Regions from separate parts of the Homo sapiens genome. Here regions 1 and 3 are each linked to region 2. Evidence: fine-mapped expression QTL. A gene starts in region 2. Each other region holds a variant in brackets. All regions are shown on one strand. Distances are from middle to middle.

Region 1 (10,732 bases), 32 kb before region 2:
AAGTCACAACAGGAGGACAAATCCTGGTTGGATCAGGCCTCTTGCCCTACTCCTTGGACAAGGCAAAGAGTTCCAGGTACACGGGGGTGAGGAAAGAGGTAGCAAGGGACAGTGGCCTCAAGGGGCAGCCTTCAGGTGAGGAGCTGGCTGCAGAGACTCACAATTGTTGGCTTTTTTTATTCAAAATTTTAAAAAATTCACCGGGCATGGTGGCTCACACCTGTAATCCCAGCACTTTGGGAGACTGACGTGGGTGGATCACCTGAGGTCAGGAGTTCGAGACCAGCCTGGCCAAAATGGTGAAACCCGGTCTGTATTAAAAATACAAAAATTAGCTGGGCGTGGTGGTGGGCACCTATAATCCCAGCTACTCAGGAGGCTGAGGCAGGAGAATTGTTTGAACCTGGGAGGCAGAGGTTGCAGTGAGCCAAGATCGCACCATTGCACTCCAGCCTGGGCGACGAGAGCGAAACTCCGTCTCAAAAAAAAAAAAAAAAAAAAAAATTAAAAGAAAAAAACATCGGATGGGTTTGGTGGCTCACGCCTATAATCCCAGAACTTTGGGAGGCCGAGGTAGGTGGATCACCTGAGGTCAGGAGTTCGAGAGCAGCTTGGCCAACATGGTGAAACCCTGTCTCTACTAAAAATACAAAAATTAGCTGGGAATGGTGGCAGGTGCCTATAATCCCACCTACTCAGGAGGCTGAGGCAGGAGAATCCCTTGAACCCAGGAGGCAGAGATTGCAGTGACTGGAGATCGCACCATTGTACTCCCGCCTGGGTGACAAGTGCAAAACTCCGTCTCAAAAAAAAAAAAAAAAAAAAAAGAAAAGAAAAAAGAAAAAGAAAAAGGAAAAAAAATCAATGGGACTCACAATTGTTTTACAGCGTTCCCTGCCTTGTTCCTGCCACCAAAAGCCATCAAGCCTCCCATAATCCTTCCCAAGTGCTTCATATTCTACCATCATAGCATTGAGGATCCTGGATTGAAATCCTGTATCTATTGCTCCCAATGGGTGGGGAGCTTCAGTAATTTGCCCACTTTTTTTTCACAGCTTGCCAGGTGACACAAGGGGGACGGTCAATGAATATTTCTTAAATGGGTGGTTAGTTAGTTAAATGGACAGATGGATTGTTGGATGGATGGTTAGATGGATGGTTGGATGGACAGTTGGATGGATGGTTGGATGGATGGTTGGATAGGTGGTTGGGTGGATGGTTGCATGAAGGGCTGGCTCGTTAGTTGCTGTGTTAGTTTCCTATTGCTGCTGTAACAGATTATCACAAGTTTCATGGTTTAAAACAACACAAATGTATTATCTTACAATTCTGGAGGTCAGAAACCTGAAAGGGGTCTCACTGGACTAAAATCAAGGTGTCAGCAGGGTTGCATTCTGGAGGCTCTAATGGAGCATCCATGTCCTCCTTGCCTTTCCAGCTTCTGGGGGCTGTCATTTTTTCTTGTCTTGTGGCCCCTTCCTCCATCTTCAAAGCCAGCAATGTAAGACCAAGTCCTTCTCATGCTGCCATCTCTGTGGTTCCTCTTCTCCTCTTAAGAACCCATATGATTACCTTGGGCCCACCCAGATAATCCAAGATAATCCCCCTATTTTAACACCAGATGATTAGCAACCTTAATTCCATCTGCAACCTTAATCCCCCTTTGCCATGTTAAGTAACATAATCACAGGCTCTAGGATTAGGATGGAGACATCTTTTGGGGGACATTAGTCTGCCTATTACAGATAGATAGATGGTTGGTTGGATGGATGGGTAGATGTATGGATAGATGTATGTATGTATGTATGGATGGATGGATGGATGGATGGACAGATGGATAGAGGGTTGGATGGATGGGGAGATGTATGGATAGATGTATGTATGTATGTATGGATGGATGGATGGATGGATGGATGGATGGATAGAGGGTTGGATGGATGGGGAGATGGTTGGATGGATGGATGGCAGACTAAGCCCTCCTGACCCCCCTGCCTTTGATGGGAATGAACAGCTTGAGACAGGTCATACGTGTTACCTCCCATCTCCTGTACTCTCTATCACTATTAATATAGTGCAAGAGCACTGAACCAGGAGAGGGATGTTTGCCAGGAGTGTCGCCCAGTCGCCCAGGCTGGAGTGCAGTGGCGGGATTTCGGCTCACTGAAACCTCTGCCTCCTGGGTTCAAGCGATTCTCCTGCCTTGGCCTCCCGAGTAGCTGGGATTACAGGCTTGCATCACCACACCCAGCTAAATTTTTTGTATTTTTAGTAGAGACGGGGTTTCACCATGTTGGCCAGGCTCGAACTTCTGACCTCAACTGATCTGCCAACCCAAGCCTCCCAAAGTGCTGGGATTACAGGCGTGAGCTACCGTGCCTGGCCACCCTGCACGTCTTTCTCTTGCATTTTATCTTTCCAAATGACTTTGGCGCTCCCAGAGGTAGGGAACTCTGTCCCACTTTCCAGCCTAGCACTCCAAACGATATTTGACTCTTACCTGCTGGTAAATGAGAGAATAACTTTGTGGGACATTCAGTCGGGCTGGGAGATTGAGAGGGGGGAAGGGATCTGGGATTCGCACCCCCTCTAGCTGAGTGTGATGGGATATCCATGAGGGGTAGCAGGGAGAGGAGCTCAGCCCCCAGAACCCACCCACTTGGGTGGGATGTTTTACTGGGGAGAAGAAGGTCAATTAAGTTTGTGTTTATTCCTTGTTTAATCTATTTAAATACCAAATACTATATATACACACACACACATATACTATATATATGGTATATATACACATTATAGTATATATGTGTATACACATATACACACTATAGTATATATATGTGTGTGCAGATGTATATTGTATTTATTTATTTATTTTTATTTTATTTATTTTTTTGAGACGGAGACTCGCTTTCGCCCAGGCTGGATTGCAGTGGCGCGATCTTGGCTCACTGCAAGCTCTGCCTCCCGGGTTCACGCCATTCTCCTGCCTCAGTCTCCTGAGTAGCTGGGACTACAGGTGCCCGCCACCACACCCCGCTAATTTTTTTTTTTATTTTAGTAGACATGGGGTTTCACCCTGTTAGCCAGGATGGTCTTGATCTCCTGACCTCGGGATCCGCCCTCCTAGGCCTCCCAAAGTGCTGGGATTACAGGTGTGAGCCACAGCGCCCGGCCTATATATAGCATTTAAACAGATTATATATATAGTATTTAAACAGATAAAACAGTAGTATTTTTTATATATATATATATATATATATATATATATATTTTTTTTTTTTTTTTTTTTT[G/TG]AGACCGAGTCTTACCTGTTGCCCAGGCTGGAGGGCAGTGCTGCGATCTTGGCTCACTGTGACTTCCACCTCCCAGGTTCAAGTGATTCTTGTGCCTCCCAAGTAGCTGGGACTACAGACATGTAGTACCACCACACCTGGCTAATTTTTGTATTTTTAGTAGAGATTGGGTTTTGCCATGTTGCCTAGGCTGGTCTTGAACTCCTAGGCTCAAACAATCCACCCAACTCAGGCTCCCAAAGTGTTGAGATTACAGGCGTGAGCCACTGCTCCTGGACTAAATACAGTATTTGATTAATATAAAAGAATATCAGGCCAGGCACGGTGGCTCATGAGTGTAATCCCAGCACTTTGGGAGGCCAAGGCGGGTGGATCACGAGGTCAGGAGATCGAGACCATCCTGGCTAACATGGTGAAACCCTGTCTCTACTAAAAATACAAAAAATTAGCAGGGTGTGGTGGCGGGCGCCTGTAGTCCCAGCTACTCGGGAGGCTGAGGCAGGAGAATGGCATGAACCCGGGAGGCGGAGCTATCAGTGAGCCGAGATCGCGCCACTGCACTCCAGCCTGGGTGACAGAGCGAGATTCCATCTCAAAAAATAAATAAATAAATAATAAAATAAAATAAAATAAAATAATATCTGTGGCTGGACGTGGTGGCTCACACCTGTAATCCCAGCACTTTGGGAGGCCGAGGCAGGTGGATCACCTGAGGTCAGGAGTTCAGGACCAGCCTGGCCAACATGGTGAAACCCTGTCTCTAGAAAAATACAAAAATTAGCCAGGTATGCTGGTGCATGCCTGTAATCCCAGCTATGCGGGAGGCTGAAGCAGGAGAATCACTTGAACCTGGGAGGCGGAGGTTGCAGTGAGCCAAGATGGCACCACTGCACTCCAGCCTGGGTGGCAGAATGAGACTCTGTCTCAAGACTCTATCTCAAAAGAAAAAAGAAAAAAAAGAATATCTGTAACGGACAATGCAGACAGTGCAAAATAGTATAATTGACACCTGCGATCTACCATACAACACAGAATGGGCACGGAACTTGCCTTGCTAGACCATAAGCTCCACAAGGCCCGGGCTTCATGTCTGCCTTGCTCATGCCTGTATCTCCCCACACCATGAAGAGTGCCCGGCACCCTGTGGGCCTGTGGCAGGTGTCCGTGGGTGGGGTCCCCCGTGTGGGTCTCCCTATCCAGCTCCTGCCTCTCCTCGAGTATGGCAAATTTTGGTTTAGCACTTCCTAGCCTGCAGATAGTTCTGTCATCATACACACCTGAACTCCTAAAACTATATCATTTAGTTATACTTCAGGGGGGCTTTATAAAAATGGCTTTGAACTGAATGTAGTCTCCTGCAGTTTGCTTTTTCACCCACATGATGGTTCAGGATTCACCCATGCTGCTGTCGGAGCTGCAGCTGATTTCTCAATTTGCCTGTCACCGGATATTTGAGTTTCTCCTTAGGAACAGTGTTGCTAAAAATGTCTCTGGGGTCGGGGGAGGGAGTTATTGTCATTATTATTATCACTGGTCCTGTTCCCATTCAAGCAGGTTCACACTCCCTCCTCTCCTCCCAACCTCCCGCAAGCACAGCCACTTCCCAGTCCCATTGGTGCCCCAGAATGAGGCTCCCTGTGACCTGAGCCAAACCTGGGTGGGGGTGGGAGGGGGTGTGGGAGGGGGCACAGCTGTAGGGAACTTCTATCTGGATCCATGCCCCTGCACCCCACCTTGAGTCACCCCCAAAAGCACGTCTCATCCCCCAGGCCCTATGTTTAGAATAGGATGGAATGGGAAAACAGACTGCAGTTGGACAGTGCCGGGTTCAAAATCAGCCCATCACGTCCAAGCCATGTGACCTCAGACAAGTCCCCCTTTCTGAGCCTCGGTCTCCTCACGTGTGATGGGGGATAACCTCAGTGCTGTCCTCACAGAGCATCTCAGCGCCAGAGGTGCTCAGTGAAGGGCAGGGAAGCTGAAGTCGTAGCTGTTGCTGTTTTCCCAAGGGCAGCTGCTATCTATGCTCCATCTTCCCCAGATGCTGTCAGGAACTTCAGAGAGCATCTAATCCAGACCTCTTTTACAGATGAGGGAACTGAGGCAATGGCGGGGGCTGGGAGCTCCCAGCCTGTTCCCTGCTGCAGGACAGATTGGTCCAACACCAGTATGTCCCCACTGCCTCCGTGCACATGCAAGGGACTGCCATCCTGTCCCCCTTCCGCCATGCAGCCCTGGACCTGCCCTTGAACTGCTTGTACAGCATCCTGCTCTGGCCTGGCCCTGGGGTATGAAGATGGGGATGGCAGGGGGGCAGCAGTGACCTCCACCTCCCAGGTTCAAGTGATTCTTGTGCCTCAGCCTCCCAAGTAGCTGGGACTATTACCATGCCACCTGACCCCAGGCTTCTGCCTGGGCCCTGAAGTCACCTTCCACTCTCCCTGAGGCCCTGGAGTCCCCACTCTCCCTGACCTGCCCTGCTGCACCTCGAGAGACCCAGGTCCTGCCTGCCCAACCTGGGCATAACACCCACTCTGCTCTGAAGGGTGGTCACGGGACTTGCCCCCTCTGCAGGCACCAAGGCGGTTGGGAGTGAGTGACAGGGAGCCTGATGCTGCTGCTCCAGACAGATGAGAGGCTGCCTGCAGAATGGGGGTGGAGGCAAATGCTTGATTTTGCAGTTGCATCCAGTTATCAGATAAGGAAGTTGAGTTCAGTGTCACACAGAAGGAACAGGACATGAGACCAGACCTGACTCCTCTTGCCTGATGCCCAACACGGCTTGCATTCTGGTGCCCTGTGGGAGGGCAGGGAGGAGGCTCCTGCCCAGAGCATCTACAGGGGGAGTCTCCTCCAAATCCGGTGTCTGTGCTGGGAGGAGCACCCCCGCTGCAGCCAGGCCACTTACCCTCAGTGATGCAAGTGCAGGGGTCAGGGCCAGCCCTTCCCCAGGTTTTCTCAAGAAGCACTGTCCCCAGGGAGCAGGCCTGAGCCTGGAGGAATGGGCGAGAAAGGGCCAGCCTCCCTTCAACAAGCTGCACTCCTTCCCACCTGCCGACACTCACTCTTCTCCACTTCCTGTCAGGGAACCCCCTCCTGGCTGCGGCAACATTCCCTCCAGGCGCCGCCCCCGCAGCCCCCAGGCCCCTCCTCTGCGCCAGGGTGGGAGCTCAGTAATTCAAGTTATTTTTAGCCAAGCTGCATCCTCCAGGAGATTGGAGTCAAGGGGAAGCCACCCCCGCACCTCCAGGAGCTGCTTGCGGAAAGAGTGATCGATTAAAACCAGTGCTGCAAGGGCCCTGTGCCAGGCAGGCAGCAGGCGCTGAGACAGGCAGAGCCAGGACCGTGGGCCTCTCACCCGCTGGCTCCTAGGCACTGGTGCCGCGTTGTTAGGAGTGGTGGGGGTCCCCACATGTCCCTCACTGCCACCGCTCAGCAGCTGCTTGTCAGCCCAACCTCATCTGACCCTGTCCCCAGCAGCCCTGCCCACGGGGAGGAGGGCCACCGCAGAGCCATCCCCTTCTCTTATCCCCACTCTGGGCGGGATTCTTTGCCTCTGTCCCCACCAGCCTCTGCCCACCAGGGGAGATTGGGGAGGGCAGAGAAGGACCCCCATTTTGCCTGCCTGGTCATCTGTCCAATCTGAGCCTTGTCCTAGGAGACCTGCTGGGTGGGCAGGGACAACCCTGACCCCCTGACTGCCAGCACCTGGCCCTGAGGATTACTGGGAAATGGGGACCAAAGCCGCAGGTGGGCACAGGAGTAGGCAGGTGGCTGGGGGATTAACCAGGGCTGAGGAGTGCCTGGGTGAGCCAGTGACTGAGCAATGTCCACAGGCCAGGCCCTGGTAGGTGCTCGGAATGAACAGGTCCCTGGATCCCCACCACAGCCTGCCAAGTAAGTGATGCCCTGCTCCCCCTCTCCCAGATGAGGAAGCTGAGCCTTGGGGTTGAGTCTCTGCTCAAGGTCACCCAGCTGCCTGGCATCCAGGCAGGTCTGGACCGTGCTCCCCAGCCCTCGCCAGTGGCTGCCTGCTGAGGGGGTGCCTGAGAATTTGAAGAACTAATGAGTGGGTATGGGGCCGATGTAGAAAGAGGGACTAACAAATGCAATATTGCAGGGGGACGCCTGCTGGATGAGGTGGGCCCGAGTCTCCTAGCACCTGTCCCCACCTTCCATGGACACCTCAGCACTGTCCACCAGAGGGTCACTCCTTCCGGTAGGCGTCCCCTTCCTTTTCTCAAGCTGTCATCTTGGGATGACACTTCCTACACTTGGGTGACACACTTCCCACCTGAGTGTAAGAGTCTCAGGCAGTGTCCACGCCCAGGAGAGTTTCAAGGAGCGGCTTTGATGGGGAGAAAAAGCTGGGTGATCACGGGCAAGTCGCTTTACTTTTCTGAGCCTGTTTCCTCCTCTGCAACGTGGGATTAACAGGCGAGGACACTCTGAGGGTGTGGTGAGAACCAGCCACAATAAAGGCAAAGCTCCTGACTCCAGCCCCCAGCAGCAGGCCCCTTTCTCTGCTGGCGCCCAGGACTTGGGCTGTGTGCGGGAAAGGCAAGAGCACCCTCTTCCGGCCAGGCCTTGGGGTCTTCAGGGTCGCAGCGACAGCTCAGGGAGGTCCGGATCAGCTGGGAGAGCTATGAGAGCAAATGCCAACCTTCACCCTCTCCAGCCCACTGTGTTCTCTCCACCTCCACCTGATCGCACAGGGCCTGCCTCATCTTCCAGGGAGGCTCCCAGGGCGCTCCTCCAACCCCAGAAGGTTTCTGGAGCCTGCTGGCCTGGCTTGAATGGAGCCCTCTCTGGTCTACATCTAGGGGTGCTGTGCCCACAGCTTCCTCCCCTCCCAGCCTCCCCGGCTCTGCATACCGTAGGTGCTCCAAGTGATCATGGCAGTAGCCCTGGCACAGCAGATACAAGAGGTTTGGGGCTGGGACCCCCTCCCAGGACCTGTCCATAGCTCTGTGTCTGCCGCCTCATGGGAATCTTGTGTAGCCTGTGTGGCCGACCTTGTTTACGTGGAGGTGGGATTGGGCCATTTAGCAGCCTCTGAGAAGTTGAGTGACTTGCCAGGGACACAGTCAAGAAAGGGCTGCCCTTGGGCCAGAACCTGCTGCCTGCAGCCACAAGCCCTTCGTGCTCAGGGGACACTCTCAATGGGACCTTTAGAATCCCCAGCCCTCTCAGAATTCTAGCTCCTCTCTGATCTTGCTAGAGTCCCGTGTGCCGCCCTAAACAGGGCCAGAACTCATTCTCCTTCCTTAGCCTATGTTGCGCTGGGGCCTGGGAGGGGGTTACTGAAGCACTAAGTTTAGGAAACCCAGGAACACCAATGGTAGGGAGGCAGGCACCTCTCAGGGAACAAAAGTGGGTGAGGGCAGCCAGGGGCTTTCTCTGGACTCAGGAGAGAAACATCAGCAACTGCCTTCCCATGGGGTGCAGGTCTCCTGTGGCCCTCTGTACCTAGCCACTCCTCGGGCCAACGGTAGCAAATGCAGCCTCCACCCTCATCCCGGCTCAGGCCTCTCTGGTTCCCTCCCTGACTCTCCAATACTCACTGTGTGCCCTTGAGTAAATTCCTCCTCCTCTTAGACCTCAGTTTCCCCACCCATTGGCTTAGAGAGGGGAACTAGATGATCTTCAAACCCCCCTGCTCCAGCGCTTGTTTCCTAAACTCCGCCAGGGGCTCCTGGGTCACAGCCTCTGTCTCCTGGGAGGGAGTGAGGACTGGGAGACTTGGGGCTTGAAATCTTTGGGAGAAGACAGCTCCCTTGTTCATTCAGAATAATTCTTTCAAAGGTCATTTCGTCCTGTCCTGTCTCCATCTTAAAGAGTTGTCCATCTGATCCCTAGGAAGGGGCGGTCCTGGGATGCAGCCAGGGCATTAACCCCAGGACTGCTTGGTGAGCAGAGAAGTCCTTTCTCCCCAGCCCGCCAAGTCTCTCTTTAGTCTGAGCTGGGAAGAGAGGGAGGGAGGGTACAGGCGAGAGGTGCATCCAGGCAGGATGGGGTTAAAGGAGAAAGGGAGCTAGAAGGGGGCTGTGGTTGCCAAGGCAACGACATTGCTGGGGCCATTGGAGCCTGCTGGGGAGGGAAAGGAGAGGGGTGTCCCTCCCAACCCTCAGCTTCATTCTTCCTTTTCAGATGCTCTTTGTTAAAAGGGAATCTCCGTAGCCTCCTTTTGTGGCTGGGAACAGGAGTGGGGAGAGATACTTCGGGCTTCCATCCAGCCCTGTCCAACACCCTCATGTCACCCACCTACCCTATCCCTTCCCTCCCATCCTTCCTAGCAGGTCGGTTTTCTGTGCTGCTGGACTTTTCTTCCATTTATACTTGGCCAGTCCTTGGCTGCCTGAGGCCAACTGACCCCAGCCCAGGCCTGCTCAGGCAGCAGCCTGCCCTCCACCCAAGGACACTACCACCTCCTTTGTAGGCCTGCTCTGGATGTGGCAGGTGTGTCTGGCAGAAGCAGGGGCTGGCACAGAGGATGCCCTCACTCTGGGCATCCGTTGGCCATAAAGGCCACGGGCTTCTCTCGTCACATGGCAGTCACTGTCACAAGGCCCCCTCCATGGCCTCATTGGGTACAAACCACCCCGTGCCCCCCCAGATTCTGGTAGGTGCCTGGACTGCAGTAGCTCTCCATTTGGCTGTGGGACCTCTAGCCAGTCATGCCCAAGGACTCCATCTCCCCACCTGTGAAGTGGGGTGATAAAAACCATACCCCCTCCAAAGGCTGCTGTGCGGTCTCACAATCAAACCCGCGGGCCTCCCAAATGCACAGCGAGGCTCTGGGAGGCTTCCTGCCTCCTCAGCCCTGGTGCTACTCGCCTCCACTGTGGCAGGCAGGCTCCAAGAGGTGAAGATGCTCTGCTGGTGAGTGGCAGTCAGAATCGAAAACCAAGTCTGTCTGATGCCAAAGCCTGTTCCTTTAACCCACAAGAGGCATCGCCCTTGGGTAAGTCTAAAGTGGGCCAGGAGGGGCTGTGCCCAGGGATGCCCACAGGCTCTACTTCCTCTGCCTTGAACCCTCTCTGGGGGAAGACAACTCACCACCACCACCAGGAACTTGGAGCTGAGGGAGACCTGACCCAGCCTAGAGAACCTGTTCAAAATAGACAGGCACTGAATCTGGAGGTGGGGGTGGTGGGGCGTGCTGAGAAGCGCAGCTGTGAAAGGCCTGGGAGGCTGCAAGAGTGTCCCGCCGGAGGGGAGCGGGTGCCTGTCTACAGCCCACCTGCAGCACCAGACTTCATCCGCGGTCCCACTCTGCCCCCTTGCGGACGATAGGCTCACATCCCGGCTCACTCCTGGGCTAGGTGGGCCAGGTGCGCCCCCAGAGGGAGATCAGGCCTGGGGCTGAAAGGGGCGCGCGCGCGATGACCTGAGGAATGGGCCGCACCTTCCAGTTTCTGCTGGAAATGACTCTCTTTTGACAG
Region 2 (8,392 bases):
GTCCATCCCTCCTATGGGACACACTGCAGGGTTGACAACAAAGAGGGAGGTTTGTAGGGACCGGCATGATCCTTGAGACATGATGTAGGGGGAGAAAACCAAGCTACAGATGGATGTGCTAAGCAGACAGGATACCAATCATGTTTACAGCCCCCACTAGACAATCCTCTACATCGTCTGCATCTTTACATGTGGGAATACCCAGAACAGCGTGTGGCATCCCCTAAACTTCTTAGAGAGGGAGAGAAATGCGGCACCAGTCTCTCAGAGCTTTGCTATTTTTTAGTATTTTTTAATCCTCTATGACTCGACATTTTTTCATTTTTTTAATGACAAGAATGATAGCATAAATCATTTGTGTACTTAAAAACACAAAACCTATATGGTTTGCCATAGAAAGTACACTGCTTGGCCGGGCGCAGTGGCTCACACCTGTAATCCCAGCACTTGGGGAGGCCGAGGCAGGCGAATCACCTGAGGTCGGGAGTTCAGGACCAGCCTGGCCAGCATGGTGAAACCCTATCTCCACTAAAAATACAAAAATTAGCCAGGCGTGGTGGCAGTCACCTGTAATCTCAGCTACTGGGGAAGCGGAGGCAGGAGAATTGCTTGAACCCGGGAGGCGGAGGTTGCAGTGAGCCGAGATTGTGCCATTGTACTCTAGCCTGGGTGACAGAGCGAGACTCTGTTTCAAAAAATATATATAAATAAAATAAAAAAAAAGAAAGTATACTGCTTGTGAAGAGTTTTTATTTGCTCCATGACCTAGAATTCACACTGTAGTTTTCATAGTAGAAAATGAAAACACAGACTTTTTCATGGTGCCACCTTATGTTGTGACCTGCCACGGCCTGTCCAGACCCTAGGGTCCAGTTGCCTCCCAGCCACACTTAAGGCTTCCCTAGACAAAGGGGTGGGGGTGCTCACCTGGAAGGTCAAGGGCCACGGCCCGGTAGCCCCTCTGTGACAGTAGCTGCAGTGTGCCCAGCTGCTCCCACGTGTGAGAGTTAAAGGCCTTTCCATGAAGCAGCACCACCTCCACCCTGCAGGCACACAGGGGAATGTGTTTGCTGGGAACCTGGTGTAGCCCACCTTTCTTTATTCCTAGGCTTCTCCCATTGCCCTCCCAGGACCTGAGCACCCTGAGTATAATGGGGGTCCCACACAGGGACTCCCCTTGAGCCTAGTCCCTCCACTAGACCCTTGGAGCAGCACCTACCTGTGTGCCTGGTTGAGTGGGAGCACCTCGCGGTAAAAGATGGGCGAGTTGCCAGGGGTGAGACCAGCCAGGACTGTGACATTGGGGTCTCCCCAGAGGCAGGAAGTCTGCTCAGGGGGGCCTGGCAGCCCCACATACAGTAGGAGCATGAGCAGCAGACTCAGGCCCAGCAGGGCTACCTGGGACCGGCTCATGGAGGTCTGTACCACAGTCTGGAGAGGGAGAGGAGAGGGAAAAGAGGCTGGAACTGAGTCCCTACAAGGACCCTGGATCCCATCCCAAAACCCCACCCAGAGTCCCCAGCAGAGGAAGAGCTCCAGCCCTTGCCCTTTCCCTTGCTCTGGGCAAAGTTCTGGGAGTTCACACTCAACTACTCCACATGCCAGGGCAAGCGCTCAGATACCTCACAGTGTGAGGAGGTGCATCTGAGGTGTTCTCTGGCACACAGCATGCTCAGTGACCGCCACCATCATGGCATCAGCTGAAACCACTTCCGTTCATCAAGCGCTTATGACAGCAGGCCCTGAGTGTGGCACTTCACATACAAGGTTCTTTTCCACCAAGAATGCTGGGGAGCAGACGTGATTATAGGTCTCTTATAGGTGAGGAAATGGAGGCTCAGAGAGGTACATTCTCTTGCCCAAAGTGCCAAGTAGCAAGTGGGGGAATTGGGGTTTGAACCTAGGAATGGGCTTCTAACTACCAGGCCACACTCGGTTTGCCAAGGAGGAACCCGTGGAGCTGGGAGATGATGGATGAACTGGAGCCTTGCAGGTGGAAAAAGTGATGAGGGCTATCAAAGGAGAAAGACTGCGCGCAAAGGGACCTCCCACTTAAGGGCATGTTTGGAAATGGTTCTTTTAATCTCACTGCATTTAATACTGCTAAAATCAGAACGCGTTTTACAATCGCATTATAACTAAGGTCTAACCCAGCTGTTATGAAGAGGCTCACAGAGAATGTCTTGTAATAGAGGAAAATGCTGAGGAGTGAGGGGCTGCAGGGCCAGGGAGGAGCATGGTACACCCAGAAATGAAAAGCACAGTGTAGAGGTTGGAGAGATGAATGCCGCCTGCTACTCCCCATCCTACACACAGACAGCTTCTGGCCAAATGACTGCTTCGTGGACTCCTCCAATCTGGGGTCTCTGCCACCCCAGAGGACAGCCCTTAGGACCCAGGACTCAAACAGGACAGGCCTTTGAGACTGCCACTTCCTGACCTTGTGTCTTCAGTTTGTCAGTAAAATGGGATAACCTCGTGGCTGCCCTCCTAAGCTTCCTGTGAGATTTAGATAATACCGTGGACTGGATCAGGGCTGTCCCTGTCATTTCTTGGGCCTAGGATGAGCACGCCTGCTTCCTTCCAGGAGTCCAGCAAACACATCTTTATTTTATTTTTATTTTTCTGAGACGGAGTCTTGCTCTGTCGCCCAGGCTAGAGTGCAGTGGTACAATCTCGGCTCACTGCAACCTCCGCCTCCCGGGTTCAAGCAATTCTCCTGCCTCAGCCTCCCGAATAGTGGGATTACAGGCTCCCGCCACCGCGCCCGGCTAATTTTTGTATTTTTTAGTAGAGACAGGGTTTCACCATGTTGGCCAGGCTGTTCTCGAACTGCTGGCCTCGTGTTTCACCCGCCTCGGCCTCCCAGAGTGCTGGGATTACAGGCGTGAGCCACCGCGCCGGGCCAGCACATCTTTATTGAGTGCCAACTGGGCGCCTGCCCGAACTAGGAGCCGGGGGCCCGTCTTGGTTCCTATTCATCCCTCCGGGATGTTTTGGGGATGTTTCCTGAGCCCGCATCCCCAGGCTTCGGGGTCGGGGGGCTTGTGAGCCACAGCAGCAGCCGCCTTTCTGCTGTTTCTGGAAAACCAGGACCTAGTGGAGGAAGAGCGCGTTCCTCTTTTCTTCCAGACCACTAACAACCTCAGACGCGCGTCTCTAACTGGGCGTTAGTCCAGATTCCCACCGGGCGCGAGGGACATTTCCTTGCTGCCCACTCGGGGCGCCCCCGCGCTTCTCCAAAGCGGGAAGGGCGGGGCTTAGGCTGTTGCCTTGGCAACCGAGGGTGCCCGCAGTACTAGGAAATTGTAGTGGACCTGCAGCTGGCCGCCTGCGGGGGTTTGCGGGGGGCAGGGTAAACTGTGCCCGGGTTAGGTCATTGGAATATGCGTTGACAATGACACACAGGTGCACACACGCACAAATACGAGTCTTGCCCCCACACGCTTTTCTTTTGCACAAGCTATTCCCTGCATGTACATGCAGCCTCTTTGCACACACACTGGCCCGTGTGCAATTAATCCCTTGTAATGGTACCCTCTACATCACGCACACAGTCAGGCATCAGGAAGCCAGAGAGACTGATGGAGATGCACACTTTGAAAACCACAGGCTGATCCTCAGAAATACTCAAGCACGGTCATACACACAACCGTAAGACTACACATTCACACAAGAAAGGCACATGCACAGGAAAGCAGACACGCACACACACACAAACCCCCAGAAATGCACACACGCAGACAGGTAGACACATACCCTTAAAATCACACGCACACAGAAATACACTCGGAAGACATAACGCTGACACAAGCAGGCAGACATCAACGAACACACCCCCCCCCCAAAAATATAAGCGCGCAGAAACCCACTGACGGACACCATGCAGACACACAAGCGTACACATACACCCAGACCCCCAAGAACATATGCAGACCCTGCGCGCGCACACACATTACACGCGCGCACATGCACATTCGCGGCCCCAGCGTCTGCTTCTTCCGCGGGACTCTGCCCCGGGGCGCCGGGGCAAGGGGCGGGGTAAAGACGGCCCTCCCCTGGGCCACCGGCCGGCCTCCCTCCCCCGGGAGACTCACCGGGCCCAACGGGATGAGCGGGCGGGCCCCGCCCAGGCGGAACCAGCAGCCGCACAGCGCCCCGACCATGGCTGCCTCCGCAGCTCCGCGGGCCGCTCCGGCTCTAGGCGGCCAGGAGCGCGGCCATCTCGGCGCGCCTGCGCACTCCGCAGCCGCGGGCCTGCAACCCAGTTACCGAGTCGTCTGCGTGGAGGGGGTGCTGGGGGCAGAGCCCCAGCGCTCTCTGGCCCGCTCCCCGCCCAGATTTTCGGAACTGTTTTTGGCTTGAGAGCCGGCGGAGAGCCATGTGGCTTCTTCTCAGTGGAACATCTCCACCCTGGCTCAGTTCTCTGGCCTGTATAATGGAGTTAAGGATAAAACCCACCGCACAGGGTTGTCCTAGGTTCTTAAGGACGGGTCAAGCCTCAGAACAGTGTCCGGAGCAGAGGCCTCGTTGTGTAAATGCCAGATATTGTTATGCAGCAGCTCCAGGTCTTGGCCGACCCACTTTCCTGACTCCTACCCACTCCTCCCCACCCCCTCCCCGACGCACACCCACGGTCAGAGCCTGGGCTGGCCCTGGGCTCGTTCACGTCTACTCATGGCGCCTGCCCTGGTTGGCGATGTGTTACCAACGTCTGGCCTGTCCCAGCCCAAGGCTCCGCGTGGCGACCAGGCCCAGCACTGGGAGGCTGTGCAGAGCGTGGCGTTTACTGCTTATTGCTACTCTGCAGAGGTTGGCAACATCTGACCCGCTCTACTGGCAGGAAACAGGCTCGGGGGCATTGGGAAAACGATCAAGGCCACTTGGCTGGACACTGGCGGAGCCTCGCACTCAAACCTGTCGGGCCTCAACTCCGTGCCAGGCCAACAAGTTGCCCTGGGCAGTTCAAGCTGGGGATAAGGGGGATGGGGAGCAGGAAGACAGCAGCAAGGATGCGATCCCGAAGGAACTTTCCTCCTCAGACTGCTCCATGTCCATGTGGGGCAGGTCGCTGAAGAGTTCGAAACCGTGCTCAGCACCGCGTTTGGGGCATGTGAGACCGAGAGGCTTTGGGAAACTGACGCCGCTGTGAGAACGAGTTTAGCGGAGTCTATGGACGCTGCGAGCTTGTGGCCACAAGAGGGCGCCCCGGAGCACGGCCCAGTCCCCGCCCCCGCTGGATGGGGCCCGGCCTCTTCCCAGCGTTCCTCCTCCGGCCCCAGGTCACCGCCAGCACGCGCCTGCTTCCCGTCTGCGCGAGTCCACGCAGCTCCCCAGGTACCCGCCCTGCACTCCTGACCCTTTCTTCTCTCCAGTCAAAATCCAACCCCACCTACCCCAAGTCTTCCTTTCTCGGATCCCTGGGTCCCCTCCTTGGGAGTTGCCACCATTCCCTCCCGGTGCTCCCTTCCAGAGCTAGCGAGCCAGAACCGTAGTCCGCGGAAGCAACCTGACCGCGAGGTCAACGCGTTGGGCCCCAGGTGGCAGCGCGTTGAGCACCCCGCATCCCCGGCGGGTCGCCTTTCCCACTGGGCGCTTCGGTTTCCGCCTCTAGAAAATGGGCTTTCCGGTGTGGAAGCGCGCCTGTGGTTCCAGCTACTGGGGGTGAGCCGGGAGGATCACTTGAGCCCAGGAAGGTCAAGGCTGCAGTGATCCATGATTGCGCCACTGCACTCCAGCCTGGACGACAGAGCGAGACATCTTCTCTTAAAAAAAAAAAAAAGAAAAAAAAAAAAACCGAAGAAAATGGGCTTTTAGTTCCGGCGCGGTGGCTCACGCCTGTAATCCCAGCACTTTGGGAGGCCAAGGTGGGTGGATCACTTGAGGTCAGGAGTTCCGGACCAGCTCGGCCAACATGATGAAACCCCGTTTCTACTAAAAATATAAAAATTAGGCCGTGCACGGTGGCTCACGCCTGTAATCCCAGCACTTTGGGAGGCTGAGGCGGGCGGATCACGAGGTCAGGAGATCGAGACCACCCTGGCTAACACGGCGAAACCCCGTCTGTACTAAAAAAAAAAAAACAAAAAATTAGCCGGGCGTGGTGGCGCGTGCCTGTAGTCCCAGCTACCCGGGAGGCTGAGGCAGGAGAATGGCGTGAACCCGGGAGGCGGAGCTTGCAGTGAGCGGAGATGTGCCATTGCACTCCAGCCTGGGCGACAGAGCGAGACTCCGTCTCAAAAAAAAAAAAAAAAAAATTAGCCAGGCATGGTGACGCACGCCTGTAAACCCAGCTACTCGGGAGGCTGAGGCAGGAGAATCGCTTGAACCCAGGAGGTGGAGGTTGCAGTGAGCCGAGATCATGCCACTGCACTCCATTCTGGGCAACAAGAGTGAAACTCTGTCCCAAAATAAATAAATAGAATAAAATAAAATAAAATGGGCTTTTTACCCCAATTTGGGCTCCCTCTGGCCTGCATTGACAACTCATGACCTGTAACTTACCGTTGATTGAGCACTGAGCCCTTACTACGTGCTAGGCATGGTACATGCATGGCCTTATTTAATCCTATCAACCACCTATGAGCTAGTACTATTGAATTATCCCCATTTATAGAAAAGGATAATAACGATGAGAATAAGAACAGTAATTGTAATGGAGCCCCACCACATATTGAGGTTTTACAGCAGGCACCCCCACTGATAATTTTTCTGTTTTTTGTTTTTTTGAGATGGAGTTTTTCTCTTGTTGCCCAGTCTGGAGTGCAATGGCGCGTTCTCGGCTCACTGCAACCTCTGCCTCCTGGGTGCAAGCAATTCTACTGCCTTAGCTTCCCAAGTAGTTGGGATTACAGGCGTGTGCCACCACAGCTGGCTAATTTTGTATTTTGAGTAGAGATGGGGTTTCTTTCTGCATGTTCATCAGGGAGATCTCGAACTCCTGACCTCAGGTGATCCGCCCGCCTCGGCCTCCCAAAATGCTGGGATTACAGGCGTGTGCCACCGCGCCTGGCCTAATGAGAGTTACATGTGACCATCAGCTGGCTCTTTTTTTTTTTTTTTTTTGTGACCGAGTCTCACTCTGTCACCCAGGCTGGAGCACAGTGGCACGATCTCGGCTCACTGCAACCTCTGCCTCCCGGGTTCAAGCGATTCTCCTGCTGAGTAGCTGGGACTACAGGCACGTGCCACCACACCTGGCTAATTTTTTTTTCTTTTTAGTAGAGACGGGGTTCCACCATGTTGGCCAGGGTGGTCTTGAACTCCTGACCTCAGGTGATCCACCCGCCTCGGCCTCCCAAAGTGCTGGGATTACAGGCGTGAGCCACCATGCCTGGCCGATAATTTTTCTTAAACTTTTAATTAAATTGCTAATTCTTGAAGTTGGCTTTATTGTTCCCATATTTCAGATCAAGAAGCTGAGGCCCCAGGTTACACACTAAAGTAAATGGCAGAGGCAGAAATAACACCTATGTCCTCCTGACCCCAAGGCATGTTCTTAAAGTTCTGGAAACCTCCTGGAGGCTTCCTTGCTGCTCCTCTGGGACTGCCACCCTGGGCAGGGTGTTCTGTGGCCCCTCATCATCGTGGTTTTGAACCACAGGCCCTTCACCAGCACAGCAGCAGCAGGCATGGCAGCAAGCGTGGAGCAGCGCGAGGGCACCATCCAGGTGCAGGGCCAGGCCCTCTTCTTCCGAGAGGCCCTGCCCGGCAGTGGGCAGGCTCGCTTCTCTGTACTGCTGCTGCATGGTATTCGCTTCTCCTCCGAGACCTGGCAGAACCTGGGTACACTGCACAGGCTGGCCCAGGCTGGCTACCGGGCTGTGGCCATTGACCTGCCAGGTACTTAAGGGGCAGGCTTCTGGGCAGGGTTTGGGGAGGTCTCATTAGGGACAGGGCCAGGTTCCTATAACATGTAGCCCCTCCCCACTCCAGGGGTGGGGGCGGTGGGATCTGGAGGACCCAGCCAGGCTGGGCCCTGAACTTGACAGCGTTTGGTCAAGCACACTGCAAGGGCCTCTGAGCAGTCTTGATCCAGATGTGGTCCTCACCGCCCAGCTGCTCCTCACTGTTACCTGGGCATTGTCTCAGTGTCTCTGAGCCTCTGTTTCCTCATCTGCAATGGGAGATAACCACACTCATGTTTTGGGCTCGCTCTAATGAGAATGGAATGAGATAATCCATGTGAGTATGTGGCTAGTACCTGACACAGAGTAATCGGTGCTCAGCCAATTGGAAGTAAAGTATTTTGACTGAATAATAACCATAGGCTTTTGGAAGCCCTAAGGAGTGAGACCTGAGTCTTCTGGGGGACAAGGCAGGGCCTGGTGGGTGGCCAGGCCCCCACTTGTGATCCCACATGCAAAGCCCTGAGCTGGGTTCTAGGGTAGAT
Region 3 (10,732 bases), 44 kb before region 2:
CTGCTCAAAGGCCTCCTCCCTGATGAAATGCAATCCTCCCAATGTGGCTGACTGACACTCCTCCCCACCCCCTAATCTGGACAAACCAATGTTTCCACCCACTTCTTGATGCCCACTCCCTCACTCTCTGCTCCTGGGATTTTCGTTCAATGCTCCTTCCTCCTATAATTGTCTTCCCCTCTCTTCCCCTCACCAAGAGCACATTCATTTTTTGGGGTCTCAGTTTATATGCCTCTTCCTCCAGGAAGCCCTCCCTAACCTCACCAGGCATTCCCACAGCCACCTGTGCACCTTCTCATTCTGTCCTGTACCTGGCACAGAGAATGTACCCAGAAAGTGTTTTTTGAATGAATGACTTCCCCCCGGAAAATGACCTCAGAACTCTGGGTTGGCCTTATCTGAACCATGCTGGCTCTAAGTTCGTTGTCAAACCCCAGAAGGGTACAGGCTTCCCCTGAGCCCTGGATGCTGGTCTGGGACCTGGGGATCCCTGAACTGAGGGGCAGGAGGGTGTGTGTGTCCTGAATTCTTTCTGAATGTGGTCCTGTGATCTGGGACTAGACCAACTGAGGGCCCTCTGTGAACAGGAAGCAGGAAGGAGAGCCGGGCCTCTGTTCTCCCACCCAGTCTCCAATTTAGAGGAAACGCAGCCTATAATTTGGAAGGCTAATTTGGTCTGGGGTTAGAAGGGAGCTCTCTGTGTGCCGAATGATGCCACGCTCTCCCAGGGGAGGAAGCATCCCCTCCCTGGGGACCTGGGGCCTCTGCTCTCAGTTCCAGGCCACACTGCTCCAGTGTGCTCCCTCCTGAGGCCTGAGCTGGGGCCCCTAGAGAGTCAGGCAGCCGGTCCTCAGCCAGGGGAGAAGGAGGGAGGGAGAAACCCAGGGCCACACTCCTTGGTCACTGACTGTCCGGTCCACTGACTGACTGGTGCTCCCGGCATCAGGAAGAACTAGTGGAGGGTCTCCAAGGACCAAGTCCACATGGTGAGCATTGCCCCAGGGTGCCCCTGGCCAGCAGGTCATGCCCATTCAGGCAGGAGCTCAGGAGAAATGTGGGCAAAATGGGCATTGTAATGACCTGGTCCAAGAAGCCTCACTCTCTAGCAACCCTGACCCCAATTCCTGCCACTCCCCGAGCTTAGGCACACTGAGTCATTTAAGGTCCTTCCCAGCATGATGGCCGCTGTCATGCTGCTTTTCCTCCTCCCCTGGGAAGTCCTCCATGTCCACCAGGCTGGTCAGGAACTACCTCCAGGCTCCTTGTCTAACAGGTACCTGGTTGCTTCCCCATTGGGATAGGGGCTCTGTGAGAGTGGGTTCCAGTTGTGGTCACCTTGGTGGTCAGAGCCCTGGCCAGGGCCTGGCTCAGCAGAGCTAGTGATGACGGACAGGCAGAGAGGCTGCACCACTCACAGATGTATGGCCTTGGGCAAGGCCTGGCACTTCCCTGGGCCTCAGTTTGCTTGTCTGTGGGCTAGGCACAGAGCAGTAGTTCAGTATTTGATGACTAAGTGAATGAATGCATGCATGCATGAATGAATGAATGAATGAATGAATGAATAAGGAGTTGGACTGGACAGTCTCCAAACCCTGGAGCTCAAATCCTCTACAGTTTCTCTCTCCTCATTTGAGTGCTAGTCTCTCTGCTCAGGCTTGTGTCAGCAAGGACTGGGGAGGGGAGAGGTCCTGGGGTCAGTCAGGGCAGACAGGAGCTGCAGGGAAGCTGAACGCTGGGATAGGGTGTCGGGTGACAGGGTCTGGGGAGAGGCGGGGCAAAAGACTCTTCAGGGTGAGGGGTGAAGGTGCCCATCCCTGGACCTGGTGTTCCAGGACCCCAGCCTGCCTGCGGCAGCGCGCCATCCCCACGACACACCACCCCAACTCACCCACAACCCAGTGGCTTCTCTTGAAACTTCTGCTCGGCTCCAACAGTCTGTCACTGGGGCTGGTGATTCACACACTCCGCTCTTCTTTCCTCTTCCCAACTAATTATAGCTCCTGCGTGTTTTTCCCCCTGGAAAAATGTCTTCTTAAAAAAAATATATCCCCAAGCCAGTGAAAATTAATTGGGTGAGCATCACTGTGTACAATTCAGACTGGCTCCGAAGACAGGCAGGTCCCAGGTTGTGGGGGCGTCTACTGCCCAGCAGAGGAAGGACGGGCGTGGGACGCAGGGTGCACATGGGGACAAGCAGCAGAGGCTCCACCCAGCCCCCATCCGACTGGCCATGGCTCTGGGGATCCTGAAGAATAACCGCCACAGTGATGGTAACGGGGACTCTACTGAGCGCCACAGCATGCTGGGCACAGTGCCAGATGCCTGCCATGTGCATTGACATTTAACCTTCTGATGCCTGCTGAAGCTGGCCTTGGAATTGGTTCCACTCTGTCGAAGAGGAAACTGAGGCTCAGAAACTCATCCAGGGTCACACAGCCATAGTGGGGGCGTTGGGGGTGACCATGAGCCATGTGGTGCTGGGAGTTGGGAGCCAGGGTGGGGGGGCATGGCCAATGGCCTGACCAAGGGGAGGCCCAGCATCATTAGGCTCCCCAAGGGACAAGCAGAGCAGGCACGCGGCCCTCTGTCTCGTCTCTCCCTCGCTTGCCTCCTGGGAATCACAGGAGCTCCCCTGGCACTGGGCCAGAGCTGAGACTACAAGTCCCCTAAGCTCTTCATGGGGCCCAGTGCGTGGCAGTTGGAGCAGATGTCTGAGCAGGCATCCTGGCCAGGCAGGGAGGGTTCCAGAGTCACAATGACAAAGAGGTGGAGATAATCAGAGACAGGACAAGAGAGAGCCAAGCAGAGCTAGAGAGGGGACAGGGAGTCACCAGTCCAACTGCAGAGGCAGAGAGGCAGAATGGAGACTGAACCAGAGACACAGCCGGGTCTGAGTCTGAAACCAAGGGACAAAGATAAAACCCAGGGAAACAAGATGGAGAGACACAAGGGAGAACCAGAGGGCTGCTGTGTAGGAGACAGCCTGGAGAGAGGCAGCACCGAGAAAAGAACAGGAAAAGGAAGGTGGAGGCCCACGGCCTCAGGCCAGGCCTTGCTGGGGAGGGTTCCTAAGAGCAGGGGCAGGCAGGGGTGCTCCAGGCCTGCTTTGGGCGTTGGGAACATGGTTCCTCCCAGCCTGTATCAATCTAGGAAGACTGCCTGGAGAGTGGCCCCAGAGCAGGAGAGCATGTGGATGTTAGGACATTAGGAGAACCGAAGGCATGGGGGGCAAGGGAGCAGGTAGGAGGTGGCAGCCACCCTGGGCCCATCCCGGGAGAGGCTCCTTTGGAACCCGGTCTCTGAGGGTGGCCAGTCTCTCCCTACCCCAGCTCAAAGGCAAGGACCCTCCCCAGGGGCTGAGGAAAATCCAGGCAGAGTTAGGCCAGCTCATTTCCTGGATGGAGAAGTGAAGTCAGTCTGAGACAACCCCTCAGCACCCCAGTCCCCACCAGCCATTAGGAAATAAACCCCCTCTACCAGCTCCAAAGGCCAGGGGCCTGTCTCCCTCCTTACATTCCTAAGCTAGAGCCAGGTCTCCTTCAGCCTACATCCTTTAGCCTTCCCAGAACCCTTAGGGCAGAAGCTGCCTCTACCCTTACCTCCAGGCCAGGCCAGAGACTGTCTCTCTCCAGGCCAGGGCAGGACCCCTCTCCCAGACCCCTACCCCACTCTGCCTTGGCAACCCAGAAGGTGTTGACGGCCTCGCTAACCACAGGCAGACTGCCCTGGCTCCAGCCATCACCTCCCCCAACTTCTCTGGACCCCTGACACGGCCGCTGGCTGCCCGGGGTCAGGGCTTGGTACCCAGGATCTATTAGCCAGGCAGCTGTCGGGATTTCCAGCACGGGGGGACCTCTGGGGCTGACACCTCTGTCAGCCACTCTCTTGTCTGGAATCTGCTGGCCAAGTCTGCACTCTTCTGGGGTCTATGTCTGGACCCTAGAGCATCTGCCATGAGAAAAAAGGACACAGCAGGAAACAGGTGGCCTTGGGTGGCCTTGAGGCCAGAAGACCAGCACAGGCCTTGAGGATGTGCCCTTGAGCCCCAGGAATGGAGAAAGAAGTGGCCAATGGGTCCAGGCAGGAGGGTTGGTCAATGCAGAAGGGCACCCGTGCAGCCTCCTCATTCTTGGTCCATGCCCCTCAGTGGGCCCGGACACTGTGATGACCAGGACATTGGGATGGAAACACCTTTTTCGTGGGCCCCCGGCTAACACACCAGGAAATCTCCTTTTCCAATAACCCATAACAGGAGGCAACACAGGATAGGGTCTGGAGTCAGGCAGCCTGGCTCCTTCCAGCTCAAGCTCTGGGGAGATGACTGAGCCTCAATTTTGTTATCTGTAAAATGGTGCTGCCAGTAATTCCCTTCTCAGACAATGCTGTGGATAAACAAGATTTTGCACATGAAACAGAAACATAAGTGGCCATGCTTTAGGCAGCCCAGCTCCTACCAGAGGCTCCAAACGTCTCCCTGGAGCCCCCTTTTTTCCTCTAGGCCCCTCCTGGCAGGAGGTGACAGGCAGTCCTCAGTCTCCAGCCCCACTGCAGCCTGGGGAGGCCCAAACGAAGACCTGAGGGAAAGGAGAAAGTCCGGATGGGGGCAAGGAGCCAGGAGACCTTGGTGTGGTCCCCTCCTGGAACGGGCCACTGGCAAGCCCCCTCCCTCTCGGGTTTCTGAGCAATGGGGATTGGACTGGATGAGTGCCTTCCTGCTCCCAACTGGAATCCTCAGCCACCCGCTTCTCTCTGCCCCTCCACTCTGGCCCCGTCCCCTTCCAAGCCAGCCTGGCCTTTGGCCTTAGCTCCTCTGACAAGAAGAGAGGGAGGAGGGCTTGCCTGCCCCCATGGGAAACCATTTTTAGCTCCCTGAGGAACTCGGCGTCCTCCCAGCAAGGGTGCGTGGGTCGTAGCTGGGTATTAATAGCTCAGCTGGAGGAGGTGACCGGGACTTTGACAGCCAAACCCTGGAGGCCTCCCATGCTGGGCAGCAGAGCAATCCCCCTGTCGTCCACCCCTCCCTTGCTGGCTCTGAACTCCACCACTGCTGTCCCCCAGGGGTGCTCTCCTCCTCCAGCCCCCACCCCTCTGCCCCTCACACAGGACTGGTTTCCCCCTTGGTTGAATCTTCCTGTGGTCCCCTGGGGAGGGGAGACCTCTTGCCCCAGTTGTGGGTTGGTGCCTGAGGCCGGTTTGTGACCAGGCCCCGTGGGAGGTGAGAACAGAGAAGCCTGTGATAAGGCTTCCCCCTCGCACCCTTTTCCGCTGCCCGCTGGCCTCTCATTCCTGCTTGCTTACTCCACCCTGGCTCCTCCACTGGCCGCCATGTGGGCTGGTCCCCAAATGTCTCTCCACGCTGGGCCCAGAATGGAGAAGAGGCGGGAAAACCCAGCTGGCCGAATGGAGGCCTGGAAAAGATTCCCTGGACAGTACTGCCTGTCCCCTGCTCAGGTGGGACATATGAGGCCTGAACAGGCCGCAGGGCTACCTCTTGGAGGTAGCCTGGGAAGTGATGGGGCCCTGGGCTGTGACTGGGGACCTACAGCCTTGGCTCAGCCCCGTCCCTGAGGCCCCCATGCCGTGGAGGTAGGGAAGGGGCACGAACCCACGCTAGGTGTCTCACACACCCGCCTCAAACACTCATCCGCACTTAATATCTCAGCTACCCCTGGTCCCTCGAGGCTACAGCCTTGAGGGTAGAAATCGGCAACCCAGAGGGAGCGTGATCGACGTGAAGGTGGGTGCTGTGATCACCCACATTTCAGAGATGAGCAGCCAAGTTTTCAGGGGAAGCACACCCTGGGAGCAGGCAGGCAGCCGGGGCTGGAGGCCTTCGGGAACAAGATTCGGTCCAAGCCCTTTGCTTTCTTTCTAGAGTCACGGTCTTGCTCTGTCATCCAGGCTGGAGTGCAGTGGCACTGTCATAGTTCACTGTAACCTCAAACTTCTGGGCTCCGGCGATCCTCCTGCCTCAGCTTCCTGAGTAGCTGGGACTGCAGGCGCGTGCCACCGCACCTGGCTACCACCCTGTGCGTGGTCATGTCCAAGCCCTAGACGCCCATTTTTCAGGCATCTCTTTGTTACCAGTCCTGCTCTGAGTCGTCTCCAGAAAATAGGAAGGCTTCTGGGTCTTTGGGGACCTCTTCCTCAGGCAGTCGTGGCCTTTGGGACTAGCCTGAGTCCTGACGAGGATGAAGGTCCAAGCTCAGTTTGGGGTCGGAGTCAGGGTCAAAGGTCAGTTTGCGGTGAACAGTGAACCCGGCCCTCTAACTCCTAACTCCAAGCTGAGTCTGGACCTCTGACTGCTAGACAAGACTGAAGCCCAAACCTTTGGGCCCCAACTCTAGTTTCTTTTTTTTTTGAGACGGAGTTTCGCTCTTGTCGCCCAGGCTGGAGTGCAATAACACGATCTTGGGTCACCACAACCTTCGCCTCCCGTGTTCAAGCGATTCTCCTGCCTCAGCCTCCTGAGTAGCTGGGATTGCAGACACGCGCCACCACGCCTGGCTAATTTTTTGTATTTTTAGTAGAGATGGGGTTTCTCCATGTTGGTCAGGCTGGTCTCGAACTCCTGACCTCAGGTGATCCACCCGCCTCAGCCTCCCAAAGTGCTGGGATTACAGGCGTGAGCCACCGTGCCCAGCTAGTTTCTAAAGTCTCAACCCTTAGGCCCAGGATGAATCTGGGCCATCAACCTCTGACTCCCAACCCAGGCTGAGCCCCCAACCCGGCCCCAGGCCTAGGGAATACTG[G/A]TCCCCACTTGCCTTCTGAGGCTGTGTCCTGGGCTCACCCGGCTCTTCACCTCTAAATCTCAACCTGGAGGTGGCCCTGCGTGCTCCTCACACTCCCTCCTCAGCCACCCCCGCCCTGAGTCTTGAAGCAGGCTGACACAGGGACACATCACACCAGGCGATGTATGACTTGGAGGAGCAGAGGCTGGAAACATATGCTATTTCTGGGCTGGATCTTATTGGTTTGGACCGTGAGCAAAGCAGAGCCCACAGCAGAGGGAAGGGAAACAGGCAGACGGGCCCTCAAACACACAGACACCACACTGCGTGGCGGGATGCAGGGGTCCTTGGGTGACCTGGCACTAGAACCACGCTTCCCTGGGACAGAGAGGCCAGCGTCCACACCCCGACTTGGAGGAAACAAGTTTAGATAAATGTGACACACACATCCCCAACCCTGCAGCTAGTTTTTTTTCTAAGGAACCCATATTCCCGGTGGCTCAGAGTGGAAACTGGATCCAAGTCCCGGCTCTTCCTATAAGCTCTGAGACCTGAGGCAAGCTGCTCAGCCTTAGCCTGGAATAGCCTCAGCATCCTCATCTGGGAAATGGGACTGTGATGTTATCTTCCTTTTGGGGTTTTATGAAGACAAAACACAACCATAGAGACGGATTTCCTGCACAAGGCAAGAGCTCACAAAGGGGCAGCTACCAATATTTTCCCAGTGACCAAAGGCAAGCTGCTTCAGTTGTGGGGTCAGGTATCCCTTCACCCCTCACTTCCGCCTCTACCCAAGAACTCCTGGGGGACACATTTTGGAAACCCTTAACTTAGATTCTAGGCCAGCAGCAGGACCAAAAGTAGCGTTAGCTGACAATTACAGAAGCCGGAACAGCATGGAATTTGTCAGCATGGAATTAGGTCACAAAATTCTTAAAACAGAAGAGCCACAGAAGCCCAAAAGGCTCAACATCCTAGGATGCAGACCTCCCCTGATTTCCTGGGCTGAAAATGGCGAGAATTGACCAAGACAAAACGAGCTCTTGCCTCGGACAGGAGCGTGGGGACTCCGGGCTCTTTCACTACATGTCCCAGAGCACCCAGGGAGGGGGAGGGCTCCACCATGGTCTCCGAATCCCCTCATTTCCTGGTGATTGCCTGCTTCCCCTCCTCCTCCAGCTCAGATGCCCTGGATGTCCAGCCATTTCTAGAGCACCCCCAGCCTGGTCTGGCCACCTCTACTGACCCCTCCTAAGACTCCCCACCCAGGTGCTGAGGTCCCCTGGGGTGAATCCCAGGGAGCTGTCCCTGCTGCCCTCAGCCTCCAGGGCCCTGCAGAGTGGGCTCCTGACATGTTGGTGACCTCAGGCTCTATCCCCTCTGTCCTCTTGCTCCTCACAAGTAGAGTCAGGACAGGAATTGGCACTGTTGGAAGGTGAGTGCCCACCCACGTGCGGGGCACCTACTGGGCTTTACGTCCATCATCTCTGATCCAGGAATCCCAGGGCCAGATTGGGGCTTGACATACCCAAGTCCACATGGCTGGGAGGTGGCAAGGGAGTTTGGCGTTTGACCTAAAGCTGCTGTCCTGAAAAGGGAGCTGTGAAGAGAGGTCCCAGCTGTCGGACGGGCTACCCCTCAACAGGCAGCAGCAGAGCCCAGCAGCCTGTCCATGCTGCACCCCGATTTCTCGGGGAGAGGCCCAGCCTCCACCATGGCTGGCTGAGCCCTGCCCCCCGGTGCCAGTCCCACATGACCTTTCCAGGTGGCTAATGAGAACCTGGGCACCACTCAGTAATTGGCCTCATTAGGTACCTAGGGCTGCCCAGGGGATGGGGTGGCGGATGCTGGGCCCCGTGGGGACTGGCCAGACAGCCGCCTGTTAATTACCTGAAAAATCAGACAATTAGGCTTCCTGCCACCTGCCTGCCCACGTCCTGCTGGCCCCTAATTACTGAGCGGCTGCTGAACAGGCTGGGAGTGACCTGGATTTGGACCGAGGACCAGCCCCTGCCATCTCCCCCATCCCCCACCCCCAGCCTCCATCGCATGCTGCAGGGACAGACAGCTGGGGTGCAGTGTGTCTTTCAGGGATCTTCCCCTGGAGCCCCCAGCCCCCTTTCCTAGCCCTGTTCCCTTCCTGCTCACGATCTCTCCTGCAGAAGGTAGCTCTGGAAGAGAAGAGATGGATGCCCGAAGCCCTGGTAGCCCTCAGGGAAGATGGCTGCTAGGGGAGTGGCAAAAACCCAGAAAGCGGCATCCAAGAGGTCTTGCTGAGGTGAAGTGGCTGCTTCCCCTCCTGCTCAGCTCTTCCAGGGGAAAGATAGCAGACTGTGTTCAGGAGTAGGAATGGCAGATAAGAGGAAGTTAAAAGCTCTCCTGAGAGCCCCGGCACAGCCCAGGGCATGCTGGGGGCCCAGGCCTGCCCTTGGGGAGTCCCCTCACTCAGAAGAGGAGATGGAGCTGGACAAAGCAAGACAAGCGTGCAGGGCCTGGCCTGACTAAAGTGGTCCTGGAAGGCTTCCCAGAGGCAGTGACCTTTAGGCTCCGTCAGGTGAGGTGTACACTGTCCCAGGCAGAAGGAACAGGGCGTGTGAGGGTCTGAAAGTGGATCCTCCCCTACAGAAAGCACAGACAGAGAGGCAGGGCACTCCCTCTGCAAGCACCGACCATGCACCAGGCAACTGGCTGGAAGCAGCTAGATGGGCCCTACCCCAGGAGGGAGTGGGGTGGACACACTGGAGTCTAGAGGGAGGCTGATGTGGGATGTGGGGCCTCCCGTCATCAAGGTCCAGCATGCAAGAAGTACCTTGGCCACCTCCTTCCTGACCTGTTTCCTTTCTTGGTTCTGTGCTAGGATTGAAAGTCCCTTTCTTTGTTTCCCTTGGGGACTTGGAGGCCCAAAGGTACCTGCTCAGAAGGGTACTCCCAGCCCAAAGAGGTCAAGAGACTAAGCTGAGTTCACCCACCCAGTTGGCTGGAGTGGGCCTCAGAGAGGTGTCCACTGTAGTCTTCCAGTGGGGTTCTGGCCCAGCCAGAGATGAAGCCACCACAACGAGGTAGGTTAGAGACAGGAAGGAGATGGGACTGCACTGGGAGGCTGGACACCAGCATTTGAGAGCTGCCACAAAAAAGTCACGCTACCCCCTCGTCCCTAAGCCTAACTCCAGGGTGGCCCCCTAGAGGCCTTGCTGCCAACCCACGCCTTCCCAAAGCCATCCCTGATAAGAAGGCCAGGAAGGCTTTGCGGACTTCCTTTAATGCACGCACTGGATCCTGGGGCTTGGTGTAGCCTGAGGCCAGAAGCTGGGAGCAGAGTCTGAGGGCAGAGCAGGTGAAGTCCCTTCTCTCCACCCCTTTCTGCTGGTCTGGGCTTCCTGACCATCGCGGGGGCAACTGCTCTGTGCTCTGCAACCTAAATTGCAATGGCTGCCGAGGTATTTCCTGTCAAACACACTACTTTGCTGTAGTGTGGCGACTACCGCAGGGATATGGGGCCTCCAGGCTTCTACCAACAGCCCCCAGAGTCAGAGTCCTGTGACACATGCACACGTGTGCACCCAACCTGGAGCCCCAACTGCCTGGTCGTCTCTGGGTCCACCTCTGCTGCATCATCATTGTCCACTAGGGCAAGCTGTACCCTGCACAACACCAGGATCCTGCTTGCACACACCCTGCTCTCATCTCTCTGTTCTTATGAGATTGTTCCCATGCTTACACCTTTGCAACCTCTGAGGGCAGGTTTTCACCTGCTCATGGCACCTGACACACAGAGGATGCCTTATAAATGTGTGTTGTATGGATTGTGGGTGGTTGATGCATGGATGGACAGATGAGTGACTTATCTAAGCTCTCCTAGCCTGCTCTAGTGGATGTAGGACTTGAACCCGGGTCCTGGGCTTCCACATGCTGCCTGTCTTATTTGGCATCCAGCCTAATCCCAGCTGGATCCCCTTCAGGATATAAGGGTGTCTGTACAATGAACACCCCTAGTCTGTGCC

What was found. PIP is the estimated chance that this variant, and not a neighbour inherited with it, causes the effect.
Region 1: its variant is the best candidate, but not a certain one, in a credible set for the expression of ABHD14B in Th2 cells (Schmiedel 2018, PIP 0.59).
Region 3: its variant is the best candidate, but not a certain one, in a credible set for the expression of ABHD14B in whole blood (INTERVAL, PIP 0.80).

Annotation. Positions count from the first base shown.
Region 1 is chr3:52,001,515-52,012,246 of GRCh38, reverse strand. No RefSeq gene overlaps it. Among named protein-coding and RNA genes, the nearest start is that of RPL29, 11 kb to the right of the region's middle. RefSeq lists an enhancer at 6,898-7,778. The variant G/TG (reference allele first, on the strand shown) is at 3,288.
Region 2 is chr3:51,970,910-51,979,301 of GRCh38, reverse strand. ABHD14B (abhydrolase domain containing 14B) reads left to right here and starts at 5,253. Exons shown (of 4, transcript NM_001146314.2): 1 at 5,253-5,337; 2 at 7,604-7,842. The coding sequence starts at 7,632. ABHD14A-ACY1 (ABHD14A-ACY1 readthrough) reads right to left here and starts at 4,238. Exons shown (of 17, transcript NM_001316331.2): 1 at 4,098-4,238; 2 at 1,220-1,431; 3 at 928-1,043. The coding sequence starts at 1,355. It overlaps ABHD14A (abhydrolase domain containing 14A), which reads right to left and starts at 4,238. Exons shown (of 5, transcript NM_015407.5): 1 at 4,098-4,238; 2 at 1,220-1,431; 3 at 928-1,043. The coding sequence starts at 4,166. RefSeq lists silencers at 3,035-3,329, 3,935-4,314, 5,145-5,314, 5,535-5,684 and enhancers at 4,915-5,094, 5,128-6,064.
Region 3 is chr3:52,014,007-52,024,738 of GRCh38, reverse strand. No RefSeq gene overlaps it. Among named protein-coding and RNA genes, the nearest start is that of RPL29, 23 kb to the right of the region's middle. RefSeq lists enhancers at 430-809, 4,482-5,244, 5,245-6,007, 9,086-9,155, 8,831-9,710. The variant G/A (reference allele first, on the strand shown) is at 6,753.